Linked DNA regions of Homo sapiens. The protein of the gene in region 1 purifies or fractionates together with the protein of each later gene. This does not show direct contact. Each region holds a gene or a part of one and is shown in the gene's direction. Other genes may lie near its edges.

The links.
Region 2: the proteins of SHMT1 (region 1) and CARS1 fractionate together in Homo sapiens (co-fractionation; one large-scale study listed by BioGRID). This does not show direct contact.
Region 3: the proteins of SHMT1 (region 1) and ATIC fractionate together in Homo sapiens (co-fractionation; one large-scale study listed by BioGRID). This does not show direct contact.
Region 4: the proteins of SHMT1 (region 1) and ARFIP1 fractionate together in Homo sapiens (co-fractionation; one large-scale study listed by BioGRID). This does not show direct contact.
Region 5: the proteins of SHMT1 (region 1) and NBEAL2 purify together in Homo sapiens (tandem affinity purification; one large-scale study listed by IntAct). This does not show direct contact.
Region 6: the proteins of SHMT1 (region 1) and FAXC purify together in Homo sapiens (co-immunoprecipitation; one large-scale study listed by IntAct). This does not show direct contact.
Region 7: the proteins of SHMT1 (region 1) and GNPDA2 fractionate together in Homo sapiens (co-fractionation; one large-scale study listed by BioGRID). This does not show direct contact.

The regions. Positions count from the first base shown.
Region 1 is NC_000017.11:18,353,551-18,357,050, reverse strand, and holds part of SHMT1 (serine hydroxymethyltransferase, cytosolic), read left to right. Parts: intron 1-1,050; 5' UTR 1,051-1,069; coding exon 1,070-1,165; intron 1,166-3,233; coding exon 3,234-3,379; intron 3,380-3,500. UniProt on the Homo sapiens protein: Interconversion of serine and glycine.
Region 2 is NC_000011.10:3,015,924-3,019,423, reverse strand, and holds part of CARS1 (cysteine--tRNA ligase, cytoplasmic), read left to right. Parts: intron 1-156; coding exon 157-285; intron 286-674; coding exon 675-804; intron 805-883; coding exon of another isoform or gene 884-912; coding exon 913-1,016; intron 1,017-1,469; coding exon 1,470-1,567; exon of another isoform or gene 1,568-1,568; intron 1,569-2,128; coding exon 2,129-2,318; intron 2,319-3,500. UniProt on the Homo sapiens protein: Catalyzes the ATP-dependent ligation of cysteine to tRNA(Cys).
Region 3 is NC_000002.12:215,310,904-215,314,858, forward strand, and holds the start of ATIC (bifunctional purine biosynthesis protein ATIC), read left to right. Parts: upstream 1-1,155; 5' UTR 1,156-1,239; coding exon 1,240-1,258; intron 1,259-1,393; exon of another isoform or gene 1,394-1,487; intron 1,488-1,594; coding exon 1,595-1,721; intron 1,722-3,955. UniProt on the Homo sapiens protein: Bifunctional enzyme that catalyzes the last two steps of purine biosynthesis.
Region 4 is NC_000004.12:152,786,454-152,789,953, forward strand, and holds part of ARFIP1 (arfaptin-1), read left to right. Parts: intron 1-3,500. UniProt on the Homo sapiens protein: Plays a role in controlling biogenesis of secretory granules at the trans-Golgi network. Mechanistically, binds ARF-GTP at the neck of a growing secretory granule precursor and forms a protective scaffold.
Region 5 is NC_000003.12:46,993,166-46,996,665, forward strand, and holds part of NBEAL2 (neurobeachin-like protein 2), read left to right. Parts: intron 1-710; exon of another isoform or gene 711-750; coding exon of another isoform or gene 751-771; coding exon 772-855; intron 856-1,289; coding exon 1,290-1,388; intron 1,389-1,866; coding exon 1,867-2,468; intron 2,469-2,548; coding exon 2,549-2,681; intron 2,682-2,766; coding exon 2,767-2,886; intron 2,887-3,105; coding exon 3,106-3,427; intron 3,428-3,500. UniProt on the Homo sapiens protein: Probably involved in thrombopoiesis. Plays a role in the development or secretion of alpha-granules, that contain several growth factors important for platelet biogenesis.
Region 6 is NC_000006.12:99,280,175-99,283,674, reverse strand, and holds part of FAXC (failed axon connections homolog), read left to right. Parts: intron 1-2,221; coding exon 2,222-2,511; 3' UTR 2,512-3,500. UniProt on the Homo sapiens protein: May play a role in axonal development.
Region 7 is NC_000004.12:44,706,057-44,709,556, reverse strand, and holds part of GNPDA2 (glucosamine-6-phosphate deaminase 2), read left to right. Parts: intron 1-1,630; coding exon 1,631-1,805; intron 1,806-3,500. UniProt on the Homo sapiens protein: Catalyzes the reversible conversion of alpha-D-glucosamine 6-phosphate (GlcN-6P) into beta-D-fructose 6-phosphate (Fru-6P) and ammonium ion, a regulatory reaction step in de novo uridine diphosphate-N-acetyl-alpha-D-glucosamine (UDP-GlcNAc) biosynthesis via hexosamine pathway.

The DNA.
Region 1 (3,500 bases):
CTCGGCCTCCCAAAGTGCTGGGATTGCAGGCGTGAGCCACCGTGCCCGGCCGGAAAATATTCTTCATGTATAGCAGTGTTGGGTACCGCAGGAGATTTTTTAAAAAGTAGCACTCAGTCCTTACCTTCAAGGAACTTAGTTTAGTTGTGGGAGATAAGCTATATCCATGAGAAGTTTGGCTGAGAGGAGGCGGAGTTGGGCTCCCTGCAGGTGGGGAGGAGGGTCAGTTCTCATTTCTGAGGGAGATGAGCTGACGTCTGCAGTTTGGAAAGGAACCAGAAGTTCCACATGGTGGTTTTGCAATAGAACATGCTCGTGTTTACCAAGCAATTCTGAGGGAAAGGCTAAAAAAAGTGTTAGTTTATCAACTTGATAGAACTAACAGGTTTCGATGAGCTTTGATTCAATATAATGCTGCGGCCAGGCATGGTGGCTCACGCCTGTAATCCCAGCACTTTGGGAGGCCGAGGCAGGCGGATCACTTGAGAGGAGTTCAAGACCAGCCTGACCAACGTGATAAAACTCCATCTCTACGAAAAATACACAAATTAGCCAGGCGTAGTGGCGCACGCCTGTAGTCCCAGCTACTCAGGAGGCTGAGGCAGGAGAATCACTTGAACCCAGGAGGCGGAGGTTGCAGTGAGCCAAGATCACGCCATTGCCTGGGTGACAGAGTGAGAGTCTTGTCTCAAAAAAATAAAAATAAATAGGTGGGGCGCGGTGGCTGACACCTGTAATCCCAGCACTTTGGGAAGCCAACGTGGGCGGATGACAAGGTCAGGAGATTGAGACCATCCTGGCTAACACAGTGAAACCTCGTCTCTACTAAAAATACAAAAAATTAGCCGGGCATGGTGGCATGCGCCTGTAGTCAGAAGATTGAGGCAGGAGAATCTCTTGAACCTGGGAGACGGAGGTTGCAGTGAGCCGAGATCATGCCACTGCACTCTAGCCTGGGCAACAAAGACTACATCTCAAAAATAAATAAAAAATAAATAAAATAAATAAATTTAATTCTGGAAGCTACACATGTTTTTCCCATTTTTTTAGGCAGCTTCGAACCAGTGCAATGACGATGCCAGTCAACGGGGCCCACAAGGATGCTGACCTGTGGTCCTCACATGACAAGATGCTGGCACAACCCCTCAAAGACAGTGATGTTGAGGTGAGATTTTTGGGGTCTTCACAGATTTTTTTATGTTGGAGGCCTTCATTTAATCTTTAGTTCTAATTACAAATTAATTAGGGACAGCCTTGAAATGAGTATTATCCTGCTGGATTTAGAGGTGGTGGCAGACAAAATGGCTACAAATCCTTTGAGGGTAAATTTAAAGATTGCTGGGTTTCTTCAAAGTGTGGAGCACTGTGCAGGGTGCTCTGGAGAAAAGCGAGAAGGGGAGAGATCACTGACAGTTGACCCTTTCCTGACAGTTCACAGGGAATATAGATCTATCTAGACATCTGAAAGCACCTTTATTTTATTTTATTTTACTTGTTTATTTATTTTTTTGAGACAGAGTTTCACTCTTGTTGCCCAGGCTGGAGTGCAATGGCGTGATCTTGGCTCACTGCAACCTCCACCTCCTGGGTTCAAGGGATTCTCCAGCCTCAGCCTCCTGACTAGCTGGGATTGCAGGCACCCACCACCATGCCCGGCTAATTTTTTTTTTTTTTTTTTTTTGAGACAGAGTCTTGCTCTGTCGCCCAGGCTGGAGTGCAGTGGCGTGATCTCAGCTCACTGCAAGTTCCACCTCCTGGGTTCATGCCATTCTCCTGCCTCAGCCTCCTGAGTAGCTGGGACTACAGGTGCCTGCCACCACACCCGGCTAATTTTTTGTATTTTTTAGTAGAGGTGGGGTTTCACCATGTTAGCCAGGATGGTCTCGATCTCCTGACCTCGTGATCCGCCCACCTCAGCCTCCCAAAGTGCTGGGATTACAGGCGTGAGCCACCGCACCCGGCCTTTTTTTTTTTTTTTTTTTTTTTTTTTTTTTTTTTTTGAGATATAGTCTTGCTCTGTTGCTCAGGCTGGAGTGCAGTGACGCGATCTCAGCTCACTGCAAGCTCCATCTCCCGGGTTCACGCCATTCTCCTGCCTTAGCCTCCCGAGTAGCTGGGACTACAGGTGCCAGCCACCACGCCCTGGCTAATTTTTTGTATTATTTTTTTTTTTTTAGTAGAGACGGGATTTCACTGTGTTAGCCAGGATGATCTTGATCTCCTGACCTCGTGATCCACCTGTCTCGGCCTCCCAAAGTGCTGGGATTACAGGCGTGAGCCACCACGCCCGGCCTAAAGCATCTTTTCTTTTAAGGAAGAAGAACAAGGAATAAGGTTCAGGGAGGGAGAAACTTGGTGAAATGTAGGAATAAAAATAACAGGATGGTGGTGTTAAAAATTAGGTGGGACACTTAAAGATAACTTTCTCTTCAATCATTTTGTTTTTCTTTTTCTGAGATGAAGTCTCGCTCTTGTTTCCCAGGCTGGAGTGCGATGGCGCGATCTCGGCTCACTGAATCCTCCACCTCCCAGGTTCAAGCGATTCTCCTGCCTCGGCCCCCCGAGTAGCTGAGATTATAGGCGCCTGCCACCACACCCATCTAAGTTTTGTTTTTTTGTTTGTTTGTTTTTGAGACAGAGTTTTGTTCTTGTCGCCCAGGCTGGAGTGCAATGGCGTGATCTCGGCTCACTGCAACCTCCGCCTCCCGGGTTCAAGTGATTCTCCTGCCTCAGCCTCCCGAGTAGCTGGGATTACAGGCATGTGCCACCATGCCCGGCTAATTTTGTATTTTTTAGTAGAGACGAGGGTTTCTCCATGTTAGTCAGGCTGGTCTCGAACCCCCGACCTCAGGTGATCTGCCCATCTCGGCCTCCCAAAGTGCTGGGATTACAGGCGTGAGCCACCACGCCCAGCCAAGTTTTGTATTTTTAGTAGAGATGGAGTTTCACCATATTGGCCAGGCTGGTCTAGAACTCCTGACCTCAGGTGATCCACCAGCCTCGGCCTCCCAAAGTGCTGGGATTACAGTCGTGAGCCACCGCACCTGGCTATCATTTTGTTTTTGTTAATTCATTGATTAGTGCTTTCTCAGATACTAAAACCTTTGAGGAGGATTCATTCTATTCCATAATGTGAAAGAGTGTCTTTTCTCTTTAGGAGGTTGTAATTTGGATCAGAGCAAAATTTTAAACTAAAATTTCCAAATATCAAGCATCTGTTTTCTTCTCATAAGGTTTACAACATCATTAAGAAGGAGAGTAACCGGCAGAGGGTTGGATTGGAGCTGATTGCCTCGGAGAATTTCGCCAGCCGAGCAGTTTTGGAGGCCCTAGGCTCTTGCTTAAATAACAAATACTCTGAGGGGTACCCGGGCCAGAGGTATGTGAATATCTTCAAAGGCCTGGTTCTGACACAGTCATAGGGAGTACTCAGTCAGCCTAGGACCTAAACAATTTGGAAATTTCAGAAAACAATAAGCTTCCCAGCTGTAGGATTTCTG
Region 2 (3,500 bases), on another chromosome or scaffold:
TCGCCCAGCCTTCCCTTAGTCTTTTCATGTGCGGGATTTAACGCTTGTTCCAATAAAGTTCAGAGGATGTAAGGGCCATCAACTTGGAGTGATAAGTGATAAAGGCCTGGACAAGCGGGTAGGCTGGTCAGTCACTGTGTGTTCGGCTTTCTCCAGGGTCGTCCGGGCTGGCATATCGAGTGCTCGGCCATGGCAGGCACCCTCCTAGGGGCTTCGATGGACATTCACGGAGGTGGGTTCGACCTCCGGTTCCCCCACCATGACAATGAGCTGGCACAGTCGGAGGTAGGTGAAAACAGAGTCCCCTTGTCAGGTGCAAGAGCACAGTGTTCATACTGCAGTGGAGGAAAAGTCAGCCCAGGCCTCAGAAGGGCCTCTCTCACTAGAACTTGACACCTTCATCGGGGCTTGTGGGTGGAATCTGAACCCTGATCATTTAGTGTGGTTTCCGCATTGACAGCCTGGCCTTTGGCAACAGACTAGCCTGGATTTGAACCAGTTGTGTTACCTGCTGGCTTATTAACCTGGGCTGTCCTTCCAAGCCCTGCCTGCACCACCTGGAAAACGCAGCTCCTGCCTGTGGACAGCACCAACAAGGCAGCAGACAGTGCAGGTGGCAGGAGGCGGCCCCAGTAACACATGACTGTTGACATCCTTTGTCTCTTTCCACGCAGGCCTACTTTGAAAACGACTGCTGGGTCAGGTACTTCCTGCACACAGGCCACCTGACCATTGCAGGCTGCAAAATGTCAAAGTCACTAAAAAACTTCATCACCATTAAAGATGCCTTGAAAAAGCACTCAGGTATACACTGGCTTCTCCCACAGACCCCCCAACCACCTTCTCATACATGTGTAATGGCTGTAGCACTCGGGAGAATAAGGGCGTTGGCTGTCTTGTGTCCCCCCACAGCACGGCAGTTGCGGCTGGCCTTCCTCATGCACTCGTGGAAGGACACCCTGGACTACTCCAGCAACACCATGGAGTCAGCGCTTCAATATGAGAAGTTCTTGAATGTGAGTCCCCAGCCCCTTCCTGGAGGTTGGTGGAGCAGCCTCCCCTGCACAGTGGGCACCTTGTGCAGTGGTGATAGGTGCACCAGCCTCCCGATGTCTCTAATGGAGACCAGCACATGGGTGGAAGCACCTCCATGCTAGTGGGTATAACAGGCTCGGGGCCACTCCTGAAATGGCTGACGGCTCAGCAGAGTGGACAGAGGCCTCGTCCTCCTAGTCACTGCAGTGCACGTCCTTCTGACTTGTACTTTCCACCAAATGAGCATCTGTAAACCTAAAGCAAGAGCATGTTTCTGTCAAAGAAATATCTTTTCCTTTCTTTCTGACCACTTGTGTAATTCTGGTCTTTCAGATTTTTACCAAAAATAAAATCACAGCAGTAGAAAGTTGTAACAGATATTTCAGGATGGAAAAGTTGCCTAAATGCTGTTAAACTGATTTTTCTAACTTCAGGAGTTTTTCTTAAATGTGAAAGATATCCTTCGCGCTCCTGTTGACATCACTGGTCAGTTTGAGAAGTGGGGAGAAGAAGAAGCAGAACTGAATAAGAAGTAAGGTGGTGCCATTTCTTTGGGGTTTTTGAGCATGCCCATGTTCTATGCCTAGCCTCGCATCTTGGCCACCATGTGTCCTGGACTGTCGAGGAAGGGCTGGGGACACTGTCGTACGTTGTGCAGAATTAATTCAGGATAGGCGGCTCTGCTAATGGGAGCTGCTCTGGGTGTTGAAGTGCATGGAGAATTTCTTTTTTGTTTTTTCTTTTTGAGACGGAGTTTCGCCCTTGTTGCCCAGGCTGGAGTGCAGTGGCGTGATCTCGGCTCACCACAACCTCCACCTCCCGGGTTCGAGCGATTCTCCTGCCTCAGCCTCCCGAGTAGCTGGGGTTACAGGCATGCGCCACCATACCTGGCTAATTTCAGATTTTTAGTAGAGGTGGGGGTCTCTCCATGTTTGTCAGGCTGGTCTCGAACTCCCGACCTCAGGTGATCCGCCCACCTCAGCCTCCCAAAGTGCTGGGATTATAGGCGTGAGCCACTGCGCCTGGCCACATGGGGAATTTCTATGGTGTGTTTTCAGGTCTGACTTCACATTCCTTCCTCTTTGTTGCTCAGCTTTTATGACAAGAAGACAGCAATTCACAAAGCCCTCTGTGACAATGTTGACACCCGCACCGTCATGGAAGAGATGCGGGCCTTGGTCAGTCAGTGCAACCTCTATATGGCAGCCCGGAAAGCCGTGAGGAAGAGGCCCAACCAGGCTCTGCTGGAGAACATCGCCCTGTACCTCACCCATATGCTGAAGGTAAGCCAGGCCCCAGGCAGGCGTATCCCTCAGCCTGTGTGGACACAGGAGCCAGGCCCCAGGACTGGGAGAACAGAGGCCTCTGGTGCCCCCCAGTGCTGTGCCTGGTGCCCAGCACCTCTGAGACGTGGAGATATGCTTCTGTCCTCTTTGGTTCCTGGTGTGCTTTTCACGCGTTAGAAATAACACCCATAAGCGGAGCACAGTGGCTCACATCTATAATCCAACACTGTGGGAGGCCAGGTGAGTGTATCACCTGAGCCCAGGAGTTCAAAACCAGCCTGGACAACATAGTGAGATCCCGGGTCTATAAAATATATTAAAAATTAGCCAGGTGTGGTGGCACACACCTGTTTTCCAGCTGCTTGGGAGGCTGAGGTGAGGGGCTCGCTTGAGCCCAGGAGGTTGAATAGTGAGGTGTGATTGCACTACTGCACTCCACTCTGGGCAATAGAGGGGAGACCCTGTCTCAAAACCAGACAAAAATAAGTAACATCCATATAGTTGTCCTTACTCAGAGCTATTTCTTTCCTTTGACTCCGTTTCCCTCTACTCCCATCTTGGAGTTTGAAAAGCAAAACCACGCCAGGCGCTGTGGCTCACGCCTGTAATCCCAGCACTTTGGGAGGCCAAGGCGGGCGGATCACAAGGTCAGGAGATGGAGACCATCCTGACTAACACGGTGAAACCCCGTCTCTACTAAAAAAAATACAAAAAACTAGCCAGGCATGGTGGCGGGTTCCTGTAGTTCCAGCTACTCGGGAGGCTGAGGCAGGAGAATGGCATGAACCCAGGAGGCAGAGCTTGCAGTGAGCCAAGATTGCGCCATTGCACTCCAGCCTGGGCGACAGAGTGAGATTCCATCTCAAAAAAAAAAAAAAAAGAGAAGCAAAACCAGGGACAAGGCCTCCTCTCTGAACACATCCTGTGCAGAGCCCTTCCCCGCAGTGCACCTTGAAAGGCCAGCAGGGCCTGGACTCAACTCCCCTCCCCTCTCCTCCTCTTTCCTTGTTGTTGGGCTCCAGTGGCTTCTGGCTGAAACAGAGCTGGAGAGGGTAGCTGTGAGTCAGGGCCATCCTGGAGCAATGAGGGCACCCTCAGGCTCGGGTTTCTGGGGCTCCTGGAGCTGCTGCTTCCATCTCTTTCCTGGTCTTGGGGCACCCCCTCCCGTGAACGAGGAAC
Region 3 (3,955 bases), on another chromosome or scaffold:
AAATCATTGGTCCTTGGTTTTATTTTTTAAGCCTATTAAAAAGGAGGATGGGGCCGGGCACGGTGGCTCACACCTGTAATCCCAGCACTTTGGGAGGCTGAGGTGGACAGATCATTTGAGGTCAGGAGTTGAAGACCGGCCTGGCCAACACCGTGAAACCCCATCTCTACTAAATATACAAAAAAAAAAAAAAAAAAGTACAACAACAACAAAAAATTAGACGGGTGTGGAGGCAGAGGCAGGAGAATTTCTTGAACCTGGGAGGCAGAGGTTGCAGTGAGCTGAGATGGTGCCACTGCTCTCCAGTCTGGGAGACAGAGCGAGACCCTGTCTCAAAACAAACAAGCAAACAAGCAAGCAAGCAAACAAACAAAAAACAAGTTGGGCATGGTGGCTCACCCCTGTAATCCCAGCACTTTGGGAAGCCGAGGCAGGCGGATCACCTGAGGTCAGGAGTTTGAGACCAGCTTGGCCAACATGGCGAAACCCCATGTCTACTAAAAATACAAAAATTAGCCGGGCATCGTGGCGCCTGCCTATAATTCCAGCTACTCGGGAGGCTGAGGCAGGATAAACTCTTGAACCCGGGATGTGGAGGTTGCAGGTTGCACGTGACATAGCCGAGATCGCGCCATTGCACTCCAGCCTGGGCAACAAAAGCGAAACTCCATCTCAAAAAAAAAAAAAAAAAACAAAAAAAACAAAAAAACCCAGAAAAACAAAAAAACAACAAACAAAAAGGGAGGATGGTAGATAACTGTCCAGATACTTTCCAGCTTTGCCGCTATATGAACTATTCCTTTTGTTTAGTTTTCAGCATGGGAGCTTCTGGCACTTTTACGTACTTTCCAGCTTCTGGGGACCGGCTGCCTAGAATAACAGGCATTTGCCCCAGAGGCCGTGGAGTGGCCTCACTTTGGGGTCGTGGGCAGATCGCTGGCTCCCACGCCTGGACTTCGGGATCGCAGGCAGGATCCCTTCCAGCCCAAGCACTCCGCCCAGGCGCGCCAGGCAGAGCCCCACCCCATCCCGCCGTTCCCTTCAGCCCCGGGGCGCGGATCTTGCATCTGAAACTGAGCAGAGCAGGGCGCCGGGCAGGGCCGGCGGGCCACGTGATAAGCCCGGAAACAGCTCCGCCCCCTCGCTTCCTGAGCCGCCACATCCCGGCAGCCCTCCTACCTGCGCACGTGGTGCCGCCGCTGCTGCCTCCCGCTCGCCCTGAACCCAGTGCCTGCAGCCATGGCTCCCGGCCAGCTCGGTGAGGCCCTAGCGGAGCGGCGCGGTCTGCGTCCTCGCCTGCGGCCCCCCACGCTCCCGCCTTGGCGGCGGCCGGCGGGACCCGGCACTGCAGGGGCGGCGCTGCGGGATTGAAAGCCAGCGTCCCCGCTCCCCGGCCGGGCCGCAGCCTGCGTGGGGCCCGCCTTAGAGCAGCTCGCGGGTGTAAGACCTGGGGAGGCCCGGACCAGGCCTGCGAACGCAGGGTCCAGGTGCTGGCCTTGCGATTCGAGAATCTCCTCCCCCAGACCCTCCCAAGGCCTTGCAGAACACAGTGCAATGTGCTGCGAATCATGAGAAAAAATGTCTTCTCTTTCAGCCTTATTTAGTGTCTCTGACAAAACCGGCCTTGTGGAATTTGCAAGAAACCTGACCGCTCTTGGTTTGAATCTGGTCGCTTCCGGAGGGACTGCAAAAGCTCTCAGGGATGCTGGTCTGGCAGTCAGGTAAGGCATAGCTAGTTCCATCAGAAAGGAGTGTGATCACATTAACCAGGAAGTATTGTATTCCAGGCACCAGCAGCAAAACGCCTTATTTACTCCTCCCAGTAGCGCTGTGAGGTTGGTGTAATACTTCCCCACTTTATGGGGAAAAAAAGTGAGGCTCAGAGAGATTTAGCAACTTTTAAGACCCTGGACGGCTGGGCTAGGTGGCTCACGCATGTAATCCCAGCACTTTGGGAGGCCGAGGTGGGCTGATCACTTACGGTCAAGAGTTCGAGACCAGCCTGGCCAACATGGTGAAACCCGTCTCTACTAAAAATACAAAAATTAGCCGGTATGGTGGCACACGCCTGTAATCCCAGCTACTGGGAAGGCTGAGGCAGGAGAATCGCTTGAACCTAGGAGGCGGAGGTTGTGGTGAGCCGAGATGGCACTACTGCACTCCATCCTGGGTGACAGAGAAAGACCCTGGACAACACACTGGACAGATTTAGCATCTTCTGCACAAGTTTAAACAGTTGAGTAAGGGAAAAGTAGGATTGGAACCCGTGCTGTTCCTGATTTTAGGACACTAGTCTTAGCCCCTTCCTTAAACAGATTAACTTAGGTGGGCCACTTGTTATGCAAGGAAAACTTCAGTTACTTTGACTGGTGATTTAATAAAACTCGACATCATGAAGATTCCAATTTACCTGCCTTCCCTTAGAATCTCTGGTAACCATATGAAGGTGCAAATCATTCATTCCCACGTTCACAAGCCCTTCATTAGCTGACTAGGCCATGGAAAGAAGGGACTTAGAAATGATTAACCAGGATGCCATTGCTGATGTCAAGGAGTGGCATTCTGGGAGGAGAGGGAGGAAGTCTACTGAAAGGTAGAAAAATGAAAAAAACTATAGGATAGCTATTTAATAAACGGCAGTGAGAGTTGGGAGGAACGAGATGACCACCCCTGAAACATATTTTAGAATGAAAGAGATGAAGGATATCTGTCTGCTTTTTGTTGCCATGTGGAAAATTTGCTTCTTGGTTTCTAGATCCATGTAGAGGTAGGTTATTACCTTTTCTTTGTGCAGTTCCCAGCTATGTGAGCAGTACACAGCTTCCCTAAGTTTAACAAGTTCAGATGGTAAGAATGCCTTACTTTATTAACAAATACATAACTGTATATTTTCGGATGTCTTTTTGCGTCTTGTCTCTGTGGTTTTCATGGGAAACCTGTGAGAATCGTGGCAGGCAAGTTGGCTCTTTGCTCATCAGCAACCGAATGAGAATTCAAAGTCCAGACCTGCGTGCTTTCCATTGGGCCAAGTTGGGTCCTCCTATGGTAATGGAACCTTCGTAAAGCAAAATCCTCATCTGTAGTCTCTTTTTTTTCCCCACCAAACTTTGTATTATGGAAACATTTCAGACACAATCAAAAGTAGAAAAGTATAATGATCCCTTGGGTCCTATATCTGTCACCCACTTTAGGTACTTATCAACTGATTAGTCTTGTTTCTGTACCTATACCCACTCCTCACTTATCTTCATTATGGTCATATCTTCTTTAAAAACTGGAAATGTAAATGTGTTTCTCTTCTATGAAAGGATAAGAAGTTCACCATGAGTGATTTATTTAGACCCCAGCACAGTAAAGTTCACTGAATGAAATGTAAACAACTTGGAGCAATTGTTTTTTCTTCAACAAAGGCCACATTCAGTTGCAGTGGTATTTTATTCAGTTGCAGTGGTATTTTACATATATAAACTCTTATAGTCCTTATAACAACTTTTTAGTTTAGGTAGTGTTATCCTCATTTTATAGGTGAGGAAATTAAGCACAACGTAGTTAAGTAACTCGCTCGAGATTACACAGCTAGTTAAGAGGCCAAGATTTTTTTTTTTTTTCTCTGAGATAGAGTTTCACTCTTGTTGCTCAGGCTGGAGTGCAATGGCACTGTCTCAGCTCACTGCAACCTCTGCCTCCCAGGTTCAAACGATTCTCCTGCCTCAGCCTCCCAAGTAGCTAGGATTACAGGCGCCCGCCACCACGCCTGGCTAATTTTTTTGTATTTTTGGTAGAGACAGAGTTTCACCATGTTGGCCAGGCTGATCTCGAACTCCTGACCTCAAGTGATCGCCCGCCTTGGCCTGCTGGGATTACAGGTGTGAGCCACCGCACCCGAGGCCAAGATTTTGTAGGGGTGGAAAGGTGTGATCCTTTGCTCTCCATCGTAAACGTCACGGCCAATATT
Region 4 (3,500 bases), on another chromosome or scaffold:
CTGATAGATCCAATGATTGAACAAGTTTTTAAAGTCTTACTTTCTACATGACTCTTGAATTTTTCTATTTCTTCCTGTTTCCACTACTGCCACTTCATCTTGCCTGAAACTTTTACAATAGCCTCCATTCTTATCTGTCCTCTCTAATTCATTACCCATCTTGAAGGCACAGTGATTTATTTTGAAACACACATTGGATTATCACTCTCCTTCTTCCTCCCCCAGTGCTTTTATGGCTTTCCATTGCTTCTAGGATCAAAATAAAACTGCTTAACAGCCTTTAGCTCTCCAGACTCATCTTGTACCATGTTCTGCATAACTCTCCAGTTCAACCATGCTGGCCTTCTTTAGTCCTTTGTATGCACCTTGCTCCCTGCCATTTTTGCAAGGCTTTTGTACATGCTTTTCTCTCTGTCTGGACCATTCTTTCTTTACTTTCATTTCATTTCACTTGTTAGTTCCTAGTCATCCTTCACACCTCAGCTGAAGTTTTGCATCCTTAGAGAATATGCTCACTTCCCACATTAAGGTAATAGCATCATACATTTCCCGCAGTTTGCAATTTACATTTATTCATGTGACTGTAAGATTTTCTTTCTGTTCAGTGGCCTATAAACTTCATGAAGGTAAGGTCCATATCTTGTTTTCTTTTTTGGCTCATTTTTGAATCCCTAGAACCTAGCTCAGTACCTGACACCTAAATTTGACTCATTAAATTTCCAAGTTAATGGTATTAAGGATTTCAGTTCATCGAGTTTTGTAATACAAGAATTTGAATATGAATTTTTATAAAAATAGTGTTAAAATGGTAGTACAGTTTGAACATTCCTAATCCAAAAACTTGAAATCCAAAATGCTGCAAAATTCAAAACTTTTTTGAGCCCAACATGATGCTACAAGTACATAATTCTACACCCAACTTTATGTGATGAATCAAAGTCAGAATGCAGGTGTACAACAGTTTCTCCAAGAGAAAAAAGACCTGCCTAGCCCCCTTCAGCTGCCATATATCTTTTCCTCACACAGCCAGATGCACCTACGCAAGCATGCCCGCAAAGGGCAATACAATGCCATGTGTATGTGTAAGAAATGATTGGTTATACGTAGCATATAAATTCAGAGACGGGAATGATAGTGATGTCAAACAACCACAGACTGTCCACATGAGTGGCTGAGATAGTGACACCTTTGCTTTTGGATGGTACAGTGTATACAAACTTTGTTTCATGCAAAAAATTATTAAAAGTATTATATAAAATTACCTTCAAGCTATGTGTATAAGGTGTATATGAAATGTAAATGAATTTTGTGTTTACACTTGGGTCCCTTCCTGAAGATACCTCATTATGCATATGGAAATATTCCAAATGCCAAAAAAATCTGAAATCCAAAACATTTCTAGTCTCAAACATTTTGGAAAAGGGATAATCAACCTGTAATTAAATTTTCAGTTTGACTATTTCTTTCAAGTGTATGGAAATAAATTATTAGGCCGGGCACAGTGGCTCACGCCTGTAATCCCAGCACTTTGGGTGGCCGAGGTGGGTGGATCACTTGAGGTTGGGAGTTCAAGACCAGCCTGGCCAACATGGTGAAACCCTGTCTCTACTAAAAAATATACATATACAGATTAGCTGGGCGTGGTGACCTGCACCTGTAATTCCAGCTACTTGGGAGGTTGAGGTGGAAGATCGTTTGAACCTGGGAGGCAGAGGTTGCAGTGAGCCGAGATCGTGCCTCTGCACTCCAGCCTGGGCGACAGCAAGACTCCGTCTCAAAACAAAAAATGTGTTATTAGTAGCTATATAAAATATAGCAATATAGCACAGTATTCTTACACTATTTTGTAATAGACCCTTTTATTTTTGGATGGTTTTAGTTTTACAGAATTACTGTGAAGATAGAATAGAGCTTCCCATACCCACTTTCCCCTATTATAAGATAGGCTGTGCACAGTGGCTCATGCCAGTAATCCTAGCACTTTGGGAGGTCAAGGCAGGTGGATTGCTTCAGCTCAGGAGTTCAAGACCAGCCTGGGCAACATGGTGAAACCCCATCTCTACCAAAAATACAAAAAATTAGCTGGGCATGGTGGTGCCCATCTGTGATCTCAGCTACTTGGGAGGCTGAGGTGGGAGGATTACTTGAGCCCAGGAGGCGGAGGTTGCAGTGAGCAGAGATTATGCCACGGTACTCCATCCTGGATGACAGAGCGAGACTCCATCTCAAAAAAACAAAAACAAAAACATACTACATTAGCATAGTACATTTGTCACAATTAACCAATATTGGCACGTAATTATTAAAGTCCATATTTTATTCAGATTACCTCACTTTTCCCCAATGTCTTTTTTTTTTTTTTTTTTTTCTGTTCAAGGATCCCATCTAGGATAGCATATTACCTTTAGTGGTCATGTATCCTTTCATTTTGACAGTTTCTCAGATTTCCTTGTTTTTGATGACAAGTTGATAGTTTTGAAGATTACTGCCTGGTCAGGTATTTTGTAGACTGTCCCTCAGTTGGGACTTGTCTGCTGTTTTTCTCATTAGACTGGGTGATATGTTTCTAGGAGGAAGATCACAGAAGTAAAGTGCCATTCCCATCACATCATATCAAGAATACAGACTTTTTTTTTTTTTTTTTTTTTTTTTTTTGAGGTAGAGTCTCACTCTGTTGCCCAGGCTGGAGTGCAGTAACGCAATCTCGGCTCACTGCAACCTCCACCTCCTGGGTTCAAGCGATTTTCCTGTCTCAGCCTCCCAAGTAGCTGGGTCTACAGGTACATGCCACCATGCCCGGCTAATTTTTGTATTTTTAGTAGAGAGAGGTTTCACCATGTTGGCCAGGCTGGTCTTGAACTCCTGACCTCAGGTGATCCACACACCTCAGCCTCCCAAAGTGTTGGGATTACAGGCGTGAGCCACTGTACCTGGCCAAGAATACAAACTATTAATATGACAGTACCATTGATATTAACCTTGACTACTTGGCTTGAGATAATGTTCATCAGTTTTGTCCACTGTAAAGTTACTCTGTTTTCCCCCTCCTTTTGTATATTGTACTTTTTAGAAGAAAGTCTCTCTGTGAAGCACACAATTGGGAATTGGGGAATTATGCTTTACCTCTTTAAGGGTGAAGTGTCTACATAAATTTTTGAAAAATCTTCTATAAGAGTTTTTTGTCTATTCTCCCCTTTCAGTCGTTTATTTATATCAGTCTGACTCATGGATATTTATTTTATACTTAAGGGTAAATCCAGTAGTACTTTATTACTTTGTTGCTCAAATTGTTTCAGCTGTGGCCACTGGGAGCTCTTTTAGTTGGTTCCTGTATTCCTTTGACATACTCCTGTCATTGTGAGACTTTTGTTCTTGTTTTGTTTGTTTGTTTGTTTTTGAGCACTTTTAACTTTCTGGTATTACAAAATGCTCTAGGCTCACCTTGTGTATTACCTACCACAGGCCTAGAATCAGCCTTTTCTCCAAGGAGCACTGATTCC
Region 5 (3,500 bases), on another chromosome or scaffold:
ACGTCTATTCATCTGCAAAGCAGGCAGGGCAAAGTGACTCCCCTCTGTTTTTACAGATGAGGACACTGAGGCCTGGAGGGGGAGGACTGATGCCTTAGGTCACTTGGGGAGTCAGGCAAAGCTGGGACCAAAGGCCCCATGGAGCCGAATATGACCTAGTCCCTGCTGAGAAACTCTCCAAGCCCTCCCAACCCCTGACCCCCTCAGGGTGGGGCAGGAGAGGCAGCAGCATGCCTCTGGCTGTCAGGTTCAGCCAGGCTGAGCCTCAGTGCCCCCACCTGGATCTAGGGGGAAGGGGCAAGGTGGGACTTAAAGGTCTCGAAGGTTCTTCTGGTTCTAACATCCTGTGATTGATTGTCCCTAAATCTCTGACCCCTGTCAATCACTGTGGGTGATGGGGCACTTGCTGGCCTGTCTGTACTCATGTGTCTAGCTTTAGGGAGACAGGTTGGGGGTAGGGCCCTAACTCCACTAGAGAAAGGGGGACTGGAGGGTGCAGTCAGAGTGTCCACCATTAATCTGTCCCAGTGAGGCCCTTCCCAGCCTTTGTTAGAGTGGGTCTTGCTGAGCTGCTCAGAGAGGGCCCTAGGTCATGATAGGGTCACAGCAGTTGGGGCAAGGAGTAGAAGGCCTGGTGCTCTGACAGAGTTGCTGATCCAGCACATGCCACATGCCTTGGGGTGCTTGGCTCTGCACCTTTTTTACTGCAGGGGGCTGCCAGCTGTGACACCCTGGCCCCTGCCTCTCCTGATGGCCCCTCCCCACCCCAAGGTCCTGGACCAAGACACAGACGCCATTGCAGTCCATGTAGTCAGAGTGCTGACCTGCATCATGAGTGACTCCCCCTCGGCCAAGGTGAGGCTGCTGCACTGCAGCTTTAGTAGGGGTGCGGGGTGGAGTTCAACTGACCATATCCCCAGAACAGGCCTGGCCGGTGGCCATAAGCATCCTGCTCCCTGGAGCAAAGCAGGCGAGCTGGGAGGTGACTGCCCTGCCCTAAAGCTCACTGGGCAGGTGTGGTCGCCAGTCTGTCCTGGGAGCTGCATCTTCTCTGTCAGGGCTGGATGGGGAATGGACACTTGTAGGCCCACCTCCATCTACAGCCTTCTGAGATGTACTCACGTCCCCCCCATCCCTCTGCAGCCCACTGCCCACCAGCACTGTCACCCAGAGGCAGAGCTACGCAAGGGAACCCCAAAACATGATGCCCCTCCAGAGTTTCCAGGGGGTCTGAGTTTGCCCTCCGGCCCATGTATGTGTTCACTTCTTCCCCATACTACCTTACACAGGAGGTGTTTAAGGAGCGCATCGGCTACCCTCACCTGCAGGAGGTTCTGCAGAGCCATGGTCCCCCCACCCATCGGCTGTTGCAAGAGCTGCTCAACATGGTGAGGGAAGGGGCTTGGGACCAGGGTCCCAAAGGCAACCAGAACTGAGTCAGGGTTACCACAGATGGTGAGCTCTCCACCCTGGGGGACCGTATTGACTGCGGCCAGTACATACTGTTACCTGTAGCCTGGCCATGTCTGTTAGTGTCACTGGAATGAGGATTCTGGCCCTGTAGGGGTCCTGGAAGCAACTGCATGTGAGCAAGCCCCAGGATTATCTTAGGAACATGCAGTTAGGGGTTAGGCCAACCCAGGCTGAAAACTAAGGTTGAGGGATTAACAATGCTGAAGGACTCTTAGTAGTAGTGACTGTCATCTGTGCCCCTCTGACTTTCCTGAGCCTCACACACAACCTGTGGGCAGGATGGAGTAGATCATGTTGCTGACTGCTGCCGTAGGCAAGTAAATGGAGCCAGAAAGTCCCACTGTTGACAGGGTGCCACAGCTGACCAGGGACTGTCATTCTCTCCACCCACAGGCTGTGGAGGGTGACCACAGCATGTGCCCACCTCCACCAATCCGCAACGAGCAGCCGGTACTGGTGCTGGCGCAGTGGCTGCCGTCATTGCCCACCGCTGAGCTGCGGCTCTTCCTAGCGCAACGCCTCAGGTGGCTCTGTGACAGCTGCCCTGCCAGCCGTGCCACCTGTGTGCAGGCAGGCCTGGTGGGCTGCCTGTTGGAGACACTCAGCACAGGGCTAGCCCTGGAGGCCCGCTGCCAAGAGCAGCTGCTGGCACTGCTACAAGCACTGGGCCGTGTATCAATAAGGCCCATGGAGCTGCGTCACCTGCTGCGCCCCCGGCCAGGATTGGACTCGGAACCAGGCGGAGCTGAGGCTGGAAAGGCCCGACACGCAGGTGCTGTCATCCGCACATTATCAGGCATGGCCAGGCACCAGGGTCCTGCACGTGCTCTGCGCTACTTTGACCTCACGCCCAGCATGGCGGGCATCATGGTACCCCCTGTACAGCGATGGCCAGGGCCTGGCTTCACCTTTCATGCCTGGCTCTGTCTGCACCCTATGGATACAGCACCTACCCCTGCCCCCACCCGACCACTCCAGCGAAAGCAGCTGTACAGGTGGGTGACTGCCAGGGGCCAGGGACCTCCTGCCAGGGTGAGCAGGAACAAGCAGACATAACTGGCTTGCCTGCCCCCAGCTTCTTTACCAGCAGCGGCTCAGGGTTTGAGGCCTTCTTCACGGCGGCCGGGACCCTGGTGGTGGCTGTGTGCACACGGAAGGAGTATTTGACCATGAGTTTGCCCGAAGTGTCCTTTGCCGACTCTGCCTGGGTGAGACCCCATCCTTCTCATGTGGCCCAGTAGAGAGAGGGGTGCTGAGTCCCAAGTATGGCCTAATGTGAGGCTTCTGTTCTAGCACTGCGTGGCTATCGTCCATGTGCCTGGGCGCCGGCCCTTCAGCCAGAACCTGGTCCATGTCTACAAAGACGGCCATCTGGTCAAGACAGCACCCCTTCGCTGCCCCTCCCTCAGTGAGGTGTGCCAAGCAAGGTTTGGGGAGGCCTTGGGTAGATGGGAGGACTTGGAACACAGTGGGCAGGTGTAGCCTGGAGCCCTTGTGTCCCGTGCTGCCCCACAGGCCTGACTTTAGCCACTGGGGTCCATGCAGCCATGGGGGTCACTGTGAGGAACTGGTTGTAGGCGGAGCCCCAGGTTCTGCTGTGACCTGACCGCTCCCCCAACCCCGGCCCCACAGCCTTTCTCCTCCTGCTGTATCGGCTCCGCTGGATACCGCACAACGACCACCACCACAGGGCTGCCCACACCACCAGTCCCCGCCACCCTGGCCTACACTCACCCCGCCCTCACCCGCTCCCAGTCAGTCCCAGCCTCCACAGGGCTTGGCTGGGGGTCCGGGCTGGTGGCCCCCCTGCAGGAGGGCAGCATCGACTCTACCCTCGCAGGCACCCAGGACACTCGGTGGGGCAGCCCCACATCCCTGGAGGGTGAGCTGGGGGCTGTGGCCATCTTTCACGAAGCCCTGCAGGCGACGGCTCTGAGGACCCTGTGCACCCTGGGTATGCAGCATTCTCCATCTCTGCCACAGCCCCAGGCCAGAAGCTAGGGGTCCGGGGGGAGAAGGCATCTCTG
Region 6 (3,500 bases), on another chromosome or scaffold:
TGACTGTCCCCATAAGGGAGAAAGTAAGTGAAGGTTTTCCATGCTGCATCTCCTCAAAAGGAGCAATGGTGTTGACTTCTCAGTTTCTGGCTCCTGAGCATGTGCACAGATATCTTCTAGAAGAGAATAGATTTTTACATAGTGGGGGTTGAGCTGTTATAATTTGAGAAGACTGGAAATGGTGACCTGGAGCCAGTACATGTCCATGGGATCCATGAAGCAGGGGGATTTGCTTTGTTATGTTTTGCAGGGGATGTAAGTAAAACAGCAATCAAGTTTTGAAAAATTTTAACATGAGAAAATGTTTACAATAATGTTACAGGAGATAATATGTAATAATAATGGCAATAGGTAAATAGAAAAAATACTGAAAGAAGTTACACCAAAATGTTAATTGTGATTATCTTGGATCGATGAAATCATGGGTACTTTTTGTTTTCTTCTTTATGTATTTGTACAGTTTGTCTATACAGACTAATTCTAATTTTCCAAAATGAGAATATGTTATTTTCCTTAACAGAAAAATAAGATAGAGTAGTGACAGACTATAATCAACAGAACCATTAATATGGAAACAACCTAAACGACCTGTGATAGGGGATTCATAAAGACAAACTGAAGCTATGGTACAGCCATATAACATAGTGTGCACTTATCACTGTGATCAGAGTGTGACATTCAAAGATTTTTATTATACGTTGTTAAGTGGAAAAACATAGGATAGGAAAAAGAATATATAGTAAATCCTATATAGCACATGTAAATATATGTAAATGTATATGTAAATATGTACCTTTCTGGAAGAACATAAATGAAAATGTTATGGGGAATGCGATTATTGGTAATGCTTTTATTTTTTGCTTATCTGTTTTTTCTAATTTTCTGCACTAAAACATGGATTGTTTACACAATAAGTGAATGTTTATATAACTCAAATCCAAAGACATTCTTAGAGTAATAATGTCCTATAAGAGATAGTAGCAAATCATATATTTATAAGCAATGTTGCCATCTGCTGGATCACAGGGAGAAACTCACCCTCTTTCTTTTTCATTTGGAATTAGGAAATGAAGGCCAGGTAGAGTGGCATGTTTCAGACAAATGCCTAGACAGTAATAGTGACTTAACACAAGAGTTCTTTTGATTCACATAAAAAAGAAGTAATCTAGTGACCGAGTGGGACCCGGATCCTGAGTACCGCTGTTCAATTTCATGTAAAAATTTAAAAATATCTTATACTAAGTGTGTTTGCAGGCACACTTATCCATAAAGACAATTCTGAGTTATCCATTTTATGGATTTTTTGGGGGGAAAGGTTTATGTCCTAACATAACTTTTTTCAGCTGCTTGGCATGGTACTCAGCCCACAGCAACACTGCGAAAATTTGTGGAGTAAATGATTACTTCTGGCTGACTTAATGCAACCAACAGTTTGACGTATTTTTATGGAATATAAATTAATTTATATATGAACCAATCACAGCATTAGCTCTCTTGATATGTAAACATAAAATAATAAAATGCTTCCTAAAGCCAAATGATGGTAGTTTATCTGCCATTTTGGATAAACTACCTTGCCACTTCTCATCATCATCGGACTCACTTCTTCATTTCATTCAGCACACTCACTGAATGTAACTTTTCTCACTCACCGTTTTTATTATGTGCATAAAAACCTAAATATTTTCACAGTATCTCTATGGAAAAATACTGTTAATGTTTACCTTCCCCGTTATTCCAGTTTCCCAGAAAGCCTAGTGGCTGGATGTCATAGTTTGGGCCGCTGTTGCAAAATGCCATAAACTTGTTTGCTGGTAAACAAGAGGAATGTATTTCTCACAGTTGTGGAGTCTGGAAAAGTCTGGGAAATGCAGGATCATGGTGGGAAATGCAGGATCACGACTCTGGCCCATTCAGGATCTGGCGAGGGCCTGCCTGGGGGAGGGACCACTTCCTGCTTCCTGGACACAGTGCTGTCTTGCTGTGTCCTCACATGGTAAAAGGGGGAAGGCAGCTCTCTCAGGCCTCTGTTATGAGGTACTAGTACCACGAATGAGGGCTTGGGCCTCATGAACGAACCACCTCTTAAAGGCCCCACCTCCTTAGACCATCACATTGGGAGTCAGGATTTCAACATTGGAGTTTTGGGGCAACACAGACCATAGAAGTGGTAGACTGCTGCCTTTGAGAACTAATCCTTGCTTTCCTTACCACACTGCAGGTGAGCTGATCAACCTTGCCATGTACTGTGAGAGGATAAGGAGGAAATTTTGGCCAGAGTGGCACCACGATGATGACAATACCATCTATGAGTCTGAGGAGAGCAGCGAAGGCAGCAAAACCCACACCCCGCTGCTGGATTTTAGCTTTTACTCAAGGACAGAGACCTTTGAAGATGAGGGAGCAGAAAACAGTTTTTCCAGAACCCCAGACACAGATTTTACTGGACACTCACTCTTTGATTCGGATGTGGACATGGATGACTATACAGACCACGAACAGTGCAAGTGACGTCCAGCCTCACTGACCCTCTTCCTTGGGACCTGCCACTCCCTGGGTCGGTCCATTTTCCCAGGTAGCAATCCATCCGAGCTGGGAGGAGATCTTCGTGCTTGGCAGAGTTTTCACATGCTAACTGGACTATAGCAGCCTTATTTCTTTTTTGTACAAACAAAACACAGAACCATTCAGATGACTCCATTGAAAACAAACAGGCAAAAAATAATGTCAGCATGGTTCCTGAAATCCATTTTTGTTTTCATTAGAAAACTATTAATAATATTGTGTGGTAGAGCAGGTGTAAGAGCTGGTTGTCAGCTGATAGTTTTTATGATGATCCTCTTCAACCCTGAGGTCTTAATTGTGAGATGGATTCTTGAACCTCCTTCCTCCACCAGGATTTGAAGTAATGAGAGATATCATCAGAAAAATGTTTTACGGTGGCTGCTTGTACTTTATGTGTGTATATTGTATGTTGAGACATAAGTCAAATAAAATCCACAGATATTAAACGAACACCTACTATGTGCAAAGCACTGTGCTAGGTGCTAATCAGTATACATTTTATTCTAAGCCCTGCCAGTGACTAGCTGTGTGATTTTGAGCAAATCTCTTATTAACTATTGGGTGCCTCATTTCTCCCACCTGTAAAGTGGGGATGACAATACTCTCCACCTACCTACCTCACAGGGGTGTTGTGGGGATTCATGTGGTAACATTCGTACGGCGCTTTAAACCTCTTAGAAGTGGTGCGACATAAACACAGCATTTTATTCTTTATTGCACTTCATGCATGTGAAGATTTGAGGGCAAAGGAATTCCATATCCAGGCAACCACCACCACAGTCACCTGCAAAAGCTGAGCAGATGAAATACACACAAAGGTACACTTAGGACTTTGTCATGATTCCTTTCTGTAATCTTGGCTGAATCAAAATCTTTTGTTCAAAGAACATTGGAAATGTTTTTACAAATTATCGACAGCTACAAACAGTCTTCAA
Region 7 (3,500 bases), on another chromosome or scaffold:
ATGCAACATCTGCCTGAGCACTGGTTGTCAAACATTAGTGTACATAAGAATCACCTGGTATCCACACCTAGCTTGCTTCTTTAAATTTAGGGATTCTGCAGTTTGAACAAACATAACAAATTATTCCATATAGTTTGTCCTTTCCCATGATATGAGAAATAATCTCCTTGAGAGTAGAACAGGTATGATATAACTAATCACATATCAGATCAAGTCTATTTAAAGACCAATTTGTTTTATCTATGCCTTAGCCATAGATAAACACCAATAATGAATTCTTCATCCTATACTAAGCTTCCCTTCCAGCAGCCTCCTTTCCCTCCACTCCCTTCATAATGGTAATGCCAGGTATGTACTTACCTTTTCTCACCAATAAAAGTTTAGTTGTCTTTTTTTTCCTCAGTATATATACTTCATGTTGAGATTTCTTGCCACCTGTCCCATTACCTTTTTAGAGTGTGCATCCATAATGAAAAGACTCTTAGCTCATATTGTCTAATTGTTAGAACTTTTACAAGAGGCAATGTAATGTAATTGTTAATCGCTAAGAATATGCACTGTAGAAAAAAACTACTTGTTTGTATCTTACCAAAACCTTGGGCCAGTTACAGAATATGCCTCAGTTTCCTTATCTTTAAAATATGAGTAAGAATAGTATTTCTCTCATGGTGGTGTTTTGAGGAGTTGAGGTAATTCAAGGAGAGTGCAGAGTATTTCCTCCCATTTTAGGTCTAGTTATAAAATATGTAATACAAAATTTGTTATATTTTAGAACTACAGCAATTTTAACATTGTTTTTTAAAACAATTGTAATGAGGAAAAAAAGTTTAAAGATTATATTACAAAAATATGTGTGTAGATGAGGTGTTAAATGGGATCAATTTCCAGCTTAAACATGATAAAGAAAAGATTCCGACACATACACATTCACATTTGCAACATGTCATTGCATTATTTCATTGGCATTTAGGGCCTGGGGACCAAGAGCTTGGATTTTCTGTAGCTTATAAGGGTAATATCAGTCATATGTGATTATAAGACAGTTCCTATGTGCTTATAAGACAGTTCCTATGTTTAAGTAGATCCCTAATCCTTTTTTAAATCCAGTTTTTATTCTGAGTCAACTTTGAATAGCACATGTTCAGTGAAATGCTCTTCAGGCTTTTCTTGATAACTCTTCAAATTACCTGTTGTTTTAGAGTCTTTGCTTTTCTGACATAGTATCTTTTGCTTATCTAGACTACAGCAACTTGGTGTATCATTCTAGATTGTATAAATTATTTATAGATTTGTAACTCTGCTTTTGCAACACAGTCCTTTTGTTTCTTTTTCTTCATTGTCCCAGGTTTCTTTTATACATCATCATTCACTATGTTAAAAGTTACAGGTATTATAGTGTTTGCATTAATAACCCATAACAAGATATTGTTTTGCTTTGTTAAACTAGAAGCAACATTTTGTGCTTGTTAATCTTAAAAAGTAGAAATGAATACCTTGAACTATTATGTGGAGCTATGTATTTTTCTTTCTCTCAGAAAAAAATATTGGTGCTTAAGTTCTCGTTTAAAAAAAATAGAGCTTCTTACTCATTTGGAACAAGTTTTAACAATTGATGTTCATAATTTTTCAGGTAATGATCCTTATAACAGGGGCACACAAGGCATTTGCCCTGTACAAAGCAATAGAAGAAGGAGTCAATCACATGTGGACTGTTTCCGCTTTCCAGCAGCATCCCCGGACTATTTTTGTATGCGATGAAGATGCTACTTTAGAATTAAGAGTTAAAACTGTGAAATACTTTAAAGGTGAGCACTGAATTTCAAAAGCCGACTGAGATAATCTGTTGTGAGTGACAATTAAAACTTACTGTGACTGTGGGGTTAAATCTCACACTGTGACCTATTGAAAAGTGGCAACACATAGCTAGTTCTTTCAAGTAATGGAAAGTTCTCACCTCAGATAATAGTATCTTCAAAGTAGTACCTTTTTTTTTTTTTCATGAAGAGAATCTCTTCAGTCTCTATTTTCAGTAAACAATTTTTCTTGAAATCCAAGGTTTAATAATTTACTTTCATATTGAATATACAAGACCAAATAACCCAAAAGAAAATGTATCTTTGTCCATTCTGGATTTCTTTTCATGTTTACTAGTCCCACCTCAATCCCTCTTCCTCACTCCCCTCTAACCTTAATTTAGAACCTAATCAGTGGATAAGAGATCTCCCACTATCTAATTTAATCTTTACAATTTTAAGCCAATTTATTCCCATATATTAAAGTTATAATGTCTAAATGTTAAAATAGTATGGAATAAACTCTGCAAGTAAGCAGGAGTTTGATTGCCCAGACTTCATGTTGATTTTCCTTTTTCCTGTAGTCTAGTTCAGTAATTCAGAAACCTTACTCTACCAGGCTGTGTATTACAAAACACATATGCTTGATATAATGGTTTTAAGAGATTTTCAAGGGACATTTTGCCTATACCCAATGTAGAACCTATTCTCTGATTTAAGAGTCAGCTCCACATATTACACATATGTAAGCAAACTGTACAAACAGGTAATTTTCATAAAGCACCTGTATTTACATAGCTGATATTAAAAGTTACATAGTTGATCATATAGATAGGTCAGTGATTCACTATGTAGTATGTATGCTACTTTTGCTACATGATTATACCTTTTAATCTTTTTTACTCTAGTAACTAGGTATTTATTTTAATGCCTATTGGAAAATACACTGAATAAATCAAAGCTATATTTTTTGGATATTATTGCTTAAGACAAGGTCCAAAAAAGCTACCATATTTGATTGGCTCTAATACACGTTGATCTTGCTGATGTTGGACTGTGTCTTAAAACTGGTGTCAGATCATAGCTTACTGGGTAGCATTTTTTTCTCAGTGGTACATAAAATGGTGTGTCTTACAATTTATAGCATCTCATACTCAGAAATAAAGTATATAATCTTAAATTTTTAATTCAATGCAAAGAAAACCAACTCATATTTCATGTATATGTGTGAATATGGCAAATATCTTGAAGGTGTTATACAAATAACTGACATTTGGCAAGCACTGAAAATAGTCTATTTTTAAACAAAATGCTGATCATGCTTTGTATATAGTTTTGTATTTGTACTTATGTTTCATGAGCATTTTCCTGTTTTACTAAATATTTGGAAGCATTTTAATGGATAGTTAAGTACATAAATCATAATTTATTTAAACATTTCCTTATTAACACTTAGATTATTTCTAGTCATTTATATTTTTACCATTTAAATTACTAATTTACCAAGCCACAAATATATCAAACTGAAAAACTGAAAAACTGAAAAATTTCTGATTTGTGAATAAAAGAGCATTTGATGGAGTTTTAACTCTATTTTCCCATGTAACCCTTCAGATTTCATCCCAAATAATAGATTCCTTGACTACAAGGAATCCTCACTATCCACAAATTTTAATTCCAGTTTTAAGGAGATTCATTTAACATGGC